2 linked regions of the Homo sapiens genome follow. The protein of the gene in region 1 purifies or fractionates together with the protein of each later gene. This does not show direct contact. Each region holds a gene or a part of one and is shown on either strand. Other genes may lie near its edges.

The links. The genes of interacting proteins can lie anywhere in the genome.
Region 2: the proteins of AGTR1 (region 1) and ATP12A purify together in Homo sapiens (affinity purification with mass spectrometry; 3 studies listed by BioGRID and IntAct, with this or other methods). This does not show direct contact.

The regions. Positions count from the first base shown.
Region 1 is NC_000003.12:148,703,802-148,708,279, forward strand, and holds part of AGTR1 (type-1 angiotensin II receptor), read left to right. Parts: intron 1-4,142; 5' UTR 4,143-4,226; intron 4,227-4,478. UniProt on the Homo sapiens protein: Receptor for angiotensin II, a vasoconstricting peptide, which acts as a key regulator of blood pressure and sodium retention by the kidney.
Region 2 is NC_000013.11:24,678,492-24,683,207, forward strand, and holds the start of ATP12A (potassium-transporting ATPase alpha chain 2), read left to right. Parts: upstream 1-1,916; 5' UTR 1,917-2,252; coding exon 2,253-2,261; intron 2,262-3,070; coding exon 3,071-3,229; intron 3,230-4,716. UniProt on the Homo sapiens protein: The catalytic subunit of a H(+)/K(+) ATPase and/or Na(+)/K(+) ATPase pump which transports K(+) ions in exchange for Na(+) and/or H(+) ions across the apical membrane of epithelial cells.

The DNA.
Region 1 (4,478 bases):
ATCAAAATCTGTTTCCCTCATAAATTTTTTTTAAAAAAAGCAAACAAGATCTATTCCATTTTGATCTAATGTTTTCCTGTCACCTTACCTTTAAGTGCAATAATGGGAAATTCTAGAAATTCCTTCTTTAACTGTTTGAAAAAATACCAAAACTATGACAGCCTGTCCAAATCCACTAAAATATATTTTTATATGCATGCTTTTTGTATATCAATTATACTTCAATAAAGCTTTTTAAAAAAATAGTAGATGACATACTTTTAAAAATTAACTTTGGAGCCCAGGTATGGTGGCTCAGACCTGTAATCCCAGCACTTTGGGAGGATCACTTGAGGCCAGGAGTTTGAGACCAGCTGAGGCAACAAACTGAGACCCCCATCTCTACAAAAAATAAAAAATTGCCAGAGCATGGTGGCGCACACCATGTAGTAGTTGGGACCTGTAGTCCCAACTACTCAGGAGACTGAGTTGGGAGGATTGCTTGAGTCTGGGAGGTGAAGGCTGCAGTGAGCCATGATCACACCACTGCACTCCAGCCTGAGCAACAGAGAAAGACCCTGTCTCGAATAATAATAATAATAATAACAACTTTTGATATCTCTATTTTTTCCCATAAAAATCCAAAATTTTCTGTTTACTTTTTGGTGCTCTCATGCTATAAAGTAAATTCTCCCTTGGATTGGACAAGTTATTTTCTGTTTTCTACATACACATAGACTGTTCAGCATTCCAACTCAAATTACATATTACTTTTTCAGCTTTTAATATAAATGCTTATTTACTACAAGCATGGTTTACAAAAATGTAGTAAAATATAGTTACTAACCAGTCAATGCTCAAGCCAGTGACTCCCCAAATGATTCAGTCCCTGAGCTGTTTCACCCAGTGCAGGTAGATTCTCTGACAGCCATCAGTTGGATCTGTCCGAATATCTCCTGTTTTGACAGGGGCTTATTGATGTTGGTCAAAAGACAGGTGTGTATGGGTTCCCTGGGATCATGTTTGAGGGGAAACCTGTGCCAACAGGACTGAGCAGCCACTTTTTCAATGGTATTGAGAAAATTTGTAGGAGATAAAATTTCACCAGCTCCTTGAATCTAGAACTGTAGATATTCAGGTAGCACTGACATTACAACATCTAATTTGTAAGTTATGGGTTAGGGCAAAATCAATCCAGGGCTGCCATCATGACAAGTAGTGGAAGTTTGAAAGAAGGAGAAATACCCAAAAGATATCTTACACATAGCAGGCAGAGTTTCTTAGTACTAATAAAAAATAAAGTACCAGTGATCACCCTCTATAGCCCCTAAGAGTCCCCTGGTTTCACTAAGCCCCAATATTTGTGGCTGTGGCTGAATGCAATCTGCACAAGGTTTTCTTTTTAACAGTTGGAAAAAATCTCATAGCATAGCATTTTTTTCTTTTTAACAGTTGGAAAAATTCTCGTAGCATAGCATTTTTTTCTAGTAAATTTCATATACTTAACAACTTTATCAGCACATATATTTTCCTTCACACTTACAATTTCATCAACACATATACTTTACTTTTTGACTCAAATTCTTCTTGCCATCAATTCAAATGCTCCTGCCCTTAGAATGAGAATTTTCCATTAACCCAGCTTTAATAATCTAACTCTCCCATTCAAATGATGTCACTTCATATAAAACACATTTTATCATGATGTCTCCCAGCCCTCAGTTACACAGTTAATTGCTGCCACTTTATCATGAATGAAAAAGATGTGATTCTTGGGTAATGATTTCTTGAGTATGTCCTGGTCTATTATCTACTGAGTTACCAGAGTGGATTTTTGAGAGAACACACAGTTATTCCTATTCCTTTTAATTTCCATTAACTTAAGCCATATGATAGAACATTACAGTTGTTATATATTTTGTATAAATATAAAATGTAATATATAATTTATATATTTTAAAATATTTAGTGGCAAGTAAAGATAGTAGTAAGTGAAAAAATCACTGTATAACATATGAATCGTAAGTGTGATCCCATGTATGTGTATACCTGGTAGATGCTTGTCAAGGTGCCATTAAGGTCTTGGGTTATTGGCATCTTAATGAAATTCATTTAATTATGTTAGGATTGATTTGTTAGTAAAATCACTTACATGTTTTTTAAATGCATGCATATCTGTGGAGCCAATAAGAAAAATTAGGAACAATATACAACAAATCTTAAGAGCTTTTGAGGATGATTTTTTTTCTTTCTTTCTTTTGTATGTACCTACAAAATTTTCTATAATGGATCTCTATTGATTTTATATTTTTTACTTTCTATTTGTCTTGGAATTTCTATTACTTTATTTATAATTCACTCTAGATTTTAGGTACTAGACAACTACTATTAACTCTCTGGAGAATGGTACTATAAATCTGACCCTTTCTGTCATTTTTTTTTCCTGTGGTACACTAGTGTCTCACAAAGAGTCCACAGAATTCACACGGTCATGATATTTTATAGAAGAAATCATTTTATGGGAACTTTCTTTTGTTAATAGATCCTTCCAATGCTAACATTATTCTGTATAACAGTGCTAAAGTTGGTATGCCTAAATGCTAAACTTGGTATGCTAAAGTTGGTTTAAAAATTAACCTATATACAATCTTCTTGAATAACTCTTCAACTTTAAATAAATTTCTTATTTAAAAAATCCTCCTATATATAATTAAAAATACTGATGAATTTGACTACATAAAAATAAATGCTTATACAGTAAAAAGTACCATAAACAAAGTTATCATCTAAACAAGAAACCTGGGAAAGCTATTTGCCAGCCATTACATGTAAAATTTAAGTTTCCTTAACATAACATGAGCTCTTTAATGTGAGAAACAATAAACAACCTAATTGAAACATGAGCAAAAGCCATGGCTGAGAAAACTCGTAGAAGAATTACTATGGAAACAATAAGAAAATGAAAAGAAGTTCAACCTCATTCATAATTAACGAAATGCAAGTCAAAACAAAGATATACCTTTTACTTATCAGATAAAGAAAAAATGATTTGATAAAACCCAGATTCTTGGTATTATAAATTGGTATAACCTTAACGGAGGACATTTTATGAATATCTATCAAAAACTTAGCATATACAAACAATTTGGTTCAACAGTCTGTTAGAATTTATTATATAGATACATTCATATAAGTACAAAAGTGCATATATGTAAATATTATTATTGGGACATTTTTGTAGCAGCCAAAAGGAAAACTGAAAAAAAAGATTAAGGCTCATTAATAGCAGACTGGTTAAATAAACTATGTGTGAGTACAATGAATGAAATATTGTACAGCCATCAAAATGAATGAGGTAGATTTATATATGCTGATGTAGGAAATCTGCTAGCCATCATAAGTAAAATAAATGAAACAAAGAAGAAAATACTATGATGTACAAAAAGAAAAAACTATAGATATACATATTTATATGCATGTGTATGCATTTTTTATGAATATACATATTTATATGCATGTGTATACAAGTCCTAGAAGGAGACATAGGTAACTATTAGTAGTACCTCTGGGAAGTAAATGCAGAGAAAAGTAATAGAGGGTAAGGATATGTTTACTTTTATTTTACATCCTTCTGTAACTTGACATTTATACGACGCGTTAGCATTACTTCTGGGAAAAAGAAAAACAGAAAAGGTAATCTTTTAAAAAGGTATTTTTTAAATTATGGTACAATAAAATGTGCATAAGCTTTATACTAAGTAATAGAATCATTTAAGTTTAGCTGTAGATTCACAAGTAAAAATCCAATCTATTTTCATATTCTTACATTTATAGACATTTCTTACATGTCTATAGAAAGAAATGGCTAGGAATGAGACTGCACTATTTTACCCTAAAACGTTCTTTTTCTCTTTGCCTAATGTATATCTACAAGGGCATTGGGGAAGATGTTGACCACAGGCAGGAAGATGATGAGATCCTGTGCCCACCACTTAATGCAGTCTAGCTCTATATAAGGAAAAATATGTTCTTGATGTGAACCAGATGGTTTCACTCCCTTCAAAAACACTCTTAAGATGCAGTGTGGAAGCTTACTCTGTAAATTAAAAAATAAAAACCTGACTATATTCAGTGGAATGCGTTAATCATTTTTTTCTTTTTAGGTTTGATATTTGACAAATTGATCTAAAATGGCTGGGTTTTTATCTGAATAACTCACTGATGCCATCCCAGAAAGTCGGCACCAGGTAAATGCCTTACATCTACAGCAGTGGGTCTGTCAGCAGTTTTCTTTAATGTGTCAGCAGTGGGGAGAGCGCAAAAACCCACACACACCATTATCTTGTGAAAGAAGTAGAGGAAGCAGAAAATAATGAAATCCCAGTGTTACCACATCCCCTCCAATATACAGATTAAGAGCGTTTGTATTTATATGGTTTTAAACATAAATAACATCAGAATTACTAAGCTATTTCCATTCATGTACTGATAATGAATCA
Region 2 (4,716 bases), on another chromosome or scaffold:
ATTTGAAAGCCATGATGAACAGAGAGGTGTGGAAAATCTAAGATCACAAATATGCCATGAGAAAGTATCTTTGTCTCTACTGCTACTTTACAAAACCACGTCTCTAACTGCTAACACTTCAAATTCCCTCAAAATAAGCTTCTTTTCCCAATTGTCCCTCACCACCAACTATAGTCATGCTCTGAAATTATTATGGAAATTTAGCATCTGAAAGGAACAGGAAGTTATAATTAATTCCTAATTAGAATTGGGCACAAGCTTTTTTTTCTTATTTTTTTTTTAATTTTTTTATTGTGACAGAGTCTCGCTCTGTCGCCCAGGCTGGAGTGCAGTGGCGCGATCTCCACTCACTGAAAGCTCCACCGTCTCCCGGGTTCATGCCATTCTCCTGCCTCAGCCTCCCGAGCAGCTGGGACTACAGGCGCCCACCACCATGCCCGGCTAATTGTTTTGTATTTTTAGTAGAGATGGGGTTTCACCGTGTTAGCCAGGATGGTCTCGATCTCCTGACTTCGTGATCCGCCCGCCTCGGCCTCCCAAAGCGTTGGGATTACAGGCGTGAGCCACCGCGCCCGGCCGGGCACAAGCTTATTGTTTTTCTTCTACCTTTTCTAAATGTACCCAATGCTCTTCATGTTTTCTGCCAGATGTTCTAGTCACTGCATGATGGGATTGTTACTTTTGCTGCTTCTCTGGACTCCTCACTCTTAGTCATTTTAAATATGGTCAAAATGACAATCTTTCTTACCATATTTGATATATAACTTTCAAAAAGAATAAAACTTAGCACCCTCCTATTAGTCCTTATCTAAATGGAAACTTATTAGCAGAGCATCAAGGGCCCAATAAAGTGCCCCCTCTTTTGAAACTTATCTCTACTCCCTTTCATATATTTCAATCATGTCAATTTCTTATTGTTCTTCTAAATAGGTGCTGATTACTAAACTCTATTCGTGGGTTTTATTTTTTATGTTCCTCTCCATTAATTAATATTCTTCACTGACTTTAAGACTTCACGATTCATTCTTTTAAAAGAACGTGTTTGATTTCCTCCACTGTTAACTGCTAAATATCTCTCTGATATATTGTTTTCAGGCTATCTTTCTCATCTGGAGTAATTATGTTTCAAGTGTCAGGGGGAAAATACCTTTTCTATCCTGTGCAAAAACTCATGCTGGGCACTAAGAGCATGGAGCATGTCCCAGTTATCTATTGCTGCATAACAAACCAACCCAAACTTAGCAGTATAAAACAACCACTGCTTTAGTATGCACATCAACTTTCAGGGTCAGAAATTCTTTTCTCCTTCATGTATAGAGTCTCAGCTGGGAGTGACATAAATAGGTGGAGACAGACCTCTCCAGCCCAGTCCAGCCAACAGCCTCCGCTCCTGCGCACCCGCAGCCTGGGGCCCCAGGTTCCTGTGGTCTCACCGACCCTAATCCTCTCATCTCTCCTCCCCATTCCCTCTCCAAATTGTTTCAGAATTCCAAATTCTTATCTGGATCCGGCAAATTAATTCAGCTACTCTTCAGAGTCTCTCAGTTATTCCCAAATTCTCTCGGAAGCTTGAATTTACCTATCTAAATCCATTCTCAAAAACACATTGGCCTTTTCTAGCCGGGACATCTCCAACAGTAGTTGCTGTTAGAAACTGCAATTTCCCCTTCTCTGCATACACATTTTTATAAATTGATTTATTGGTAGGCAAATTACATTTTTAAAAAAAGGCATGTGTGGGTTTTCAGGGAAGCCTGGACAGGACGTGGGCGTGCCGGGAGCTCGCCGGAGCAGCTGGTCCGGCTCTGGGCGCCCAGCGGAACCAGGGCTGTACTCACCTGGATGCCGGACCCGCCCCCTAGAGACCCCGCCCCCTGGCGTTCGGCTACTAAAGGGAAGGGGATTCCCAGGGGGTCCTCAATCCTGGACTCTCCCGACCCCTAGCTGTCGGTCCCCCTCCCTGCGCGCGCGCCGGCGGGTTTCCTACCCTCCGAGGCGTCCGCTGGCCTGCGCCCTGGCGGGGACGTGGGCGGGGCGGGCGGCATTTAAGGCTGGTGCCACCTCCCCGGTGCAGCGGCTGGCGATCGGCCGCGGAGGTGCGTGCAGGGCCCGCGCCGCCGCCGGTATCTCCACCGCCAACACCTCAGCCACTGCCACTGCCACAGCCACACGAGGCCCCCCACCGTGCGCTCCGCCGCTGCGGTCCCGGATCCGCGCTCCACGCCCGCAGCCCGCGGCGCCACCAGCCCAGCATGCACCAGGTGCGTGCAGCCCCCGCGCCGGCCGAGGATGCGAGACGCTGGGCCAAGGCCCCGGGGACCGGAGCAGGCTGACGGGAAGCGAGGAAAAGGCGAAGAGGAGAAACGCCCCGTCCCGGGGCAAGGGGAGGCCGCCTTTCCTCTGAGCGCCCCCCGGCCTGGGCACCGCTTCTCTGACTCCCCGCCACGGCTCCGTGCGGCCGCCGGGGCTGGCTGGGGAAAGAAGCCAGTCCAGAGGAGCGAGAAGGGGCCAAGGGGTCCTAGGCCAGCTCCATGGCACCTGCGGGCTCCGACTCGGAGGATGGGGTGACATGGATTCGTTGCGGTCTGAAAAGACTTCCGGTTAGGGCCCCCTGATCAGGACTGAGGGTCGTAAGCTTAGTGGGTGCCTCCTCCCCAAGAAACAGGACGCACAGCTGTTGTGTCCCCTGGGAAGGACACCTCAGAGGAAACCTCGAGGTGCCTAAGGAACCTCGAGGTTCTAAGGAAACCTCACAGCTCCTTGGAGGCATCAGTCAGGAGTTGGGGGGGTAACTTCCCACCTGCTCCACCCAGAGAAGGGTCACCCTGAGGAGCTGCTGGCTGGCCTGTGCCCACCCCGCCTCCCCTCTACACGGACGGAGAGGAAGCCAAGGTCGGCGGGAGGTGGGGGAGAGACTCCACTGTCCGACTCCCTCCGGCCTCCCCAGAGGAGGGAAGGAAAGGGAGAAGGGGCTCCTGACTCCTGCAGGTCCTGACCCCGCAGAGGGGCGCTCAGCACCTCTTCGGAAACCCCATTTGGGGCCAATATTGCACCTGGGCTTCTCTTTCAGAAAACCCCAGAAATTTACTCCGTGGAGCTCAGCGGAACTAAGGACATCGTGAAAACAGACAAGGGGGATGGCAAGGAGAAGTATAGGGGTCTGAAGAACAACTGCCTGGAACTCAAAAAGAAAAATCACAAAGAGGAGTTTCAGAAAGAACTCCATCTGGTCAGTAGCCTTAAGCCACGGGGTCCTGCCGGCTATGGCCCTTCCCCGCAAGAGCTTGCCCCTAGAACCCACCTCTTACCACAGACATTCAGTCTGAGGGATTTGAAATCCCCTTGAGATTGTGTGTGGTGTGTGGTGTCTGCGTGGTGTGTCTGTGTGGTGTGTGTGTGTGGTGTATGTGTGGTGTGTGTGTATGTGTGGTGTGTCTGTGTAGTGTGTGGTGTGTGTGTGTATGTGTGGTGTGTGGTGTATGGTGTGTGGTGTGTGTGTATGGTGTGTGGTGTGTGTATATGGTGTGTGTAGTGTGTGGTGTGTGTATGTGTGTGGTGTGTGTGTATGGTGTGTGTGTATGGTGTGTGTATGTGTGGTGTGTGTGATGTGTGTGTGATGTGTGTGTGGTGTGTGTGTGTGGTGTGTATATGTGTGTGGTGTGTGTGTGGTGTGTGTATGTGTGTGGTGTGTGTATGTGTGTGGTATATATGTGTGTGGTGTGTGTGGTGTGTGTATGTGCATGGTATGTGTGGTGTGTGTGTAGCGTGTGGTGTGTGTGTAGTGTGTGGTGTGTATGTGTGGTGTGTGTATGTGCATGGTATGTGTGGTGTGTGTGTAGCGTGTGGTGTGTGTGTAGTGTGTGGTGTATATGTGTGGTGTGTGGTGTGTGTGTGGTGTGTGGTGTGTGTATGTGTGTGTGTGTGTTTTGAATGGTGTGATAGTATCCACCCAGAGGTCAGGGCCTCTGCAGGATTCCTGCATTCTGGTTGGAGGCAGTCCCTGTAGAACTCAGAAGGAAGAGCCTCTGATTCCAGGCCCCACAGGCATGGCCAGACCTCTCTCCCCGCAGCTGCTTCAGTGAGAGTTAAGTAACCACTTGCCAGTTTTCAATTGATTAGTAAAACTATTTGAGCTGGAACTTCTGAGGAGGAAAACCAAAGCCCCTAGGCCATGCTAGATTGCAGGTGTGAAACCTCATGGAAAAGCAGTTTCAGTGGTAAAAATGTGGAGCTTGGATTGGGAGGACCTCGGGCCCCATCAGAGTCCCACTTCTCCACTGAGCTGAAACTGGCAACAAATGACTGACCCTCACTGAAGGTCCATTTCCTTTATGTAAAATGGGAAATAAATAATTTGCTGGGGTCTATGAGGGGAAAAAATGAGATGAGGATTTTGTAATTCACGTGCTTTAGGGGAGTACAATATTATTATTATTAAGGAAGAGCTCTGGAGTTATTAAAACTAGCCTTTTTTTTTTTTTTGAGACAGAGTTTCGCTCTTGTTGCCCAGGCTGGAGTGCAATGGCGCTATCTAGGCTCACTGCAACCTCCACCTCCTGGGTTCAAGCGATTCTCTTGCCTCGGCCTCCCGAGTCACTGGGATTACAGGCGCCCGCCATCACACCCAGCTAATTTTTGTTGTTTTTAGTAGAGACGGGGTTTCCCCATGTTGGCCAGGCTGCTCTCGAACTCCTGACCTCAGATGATCCACCCGCC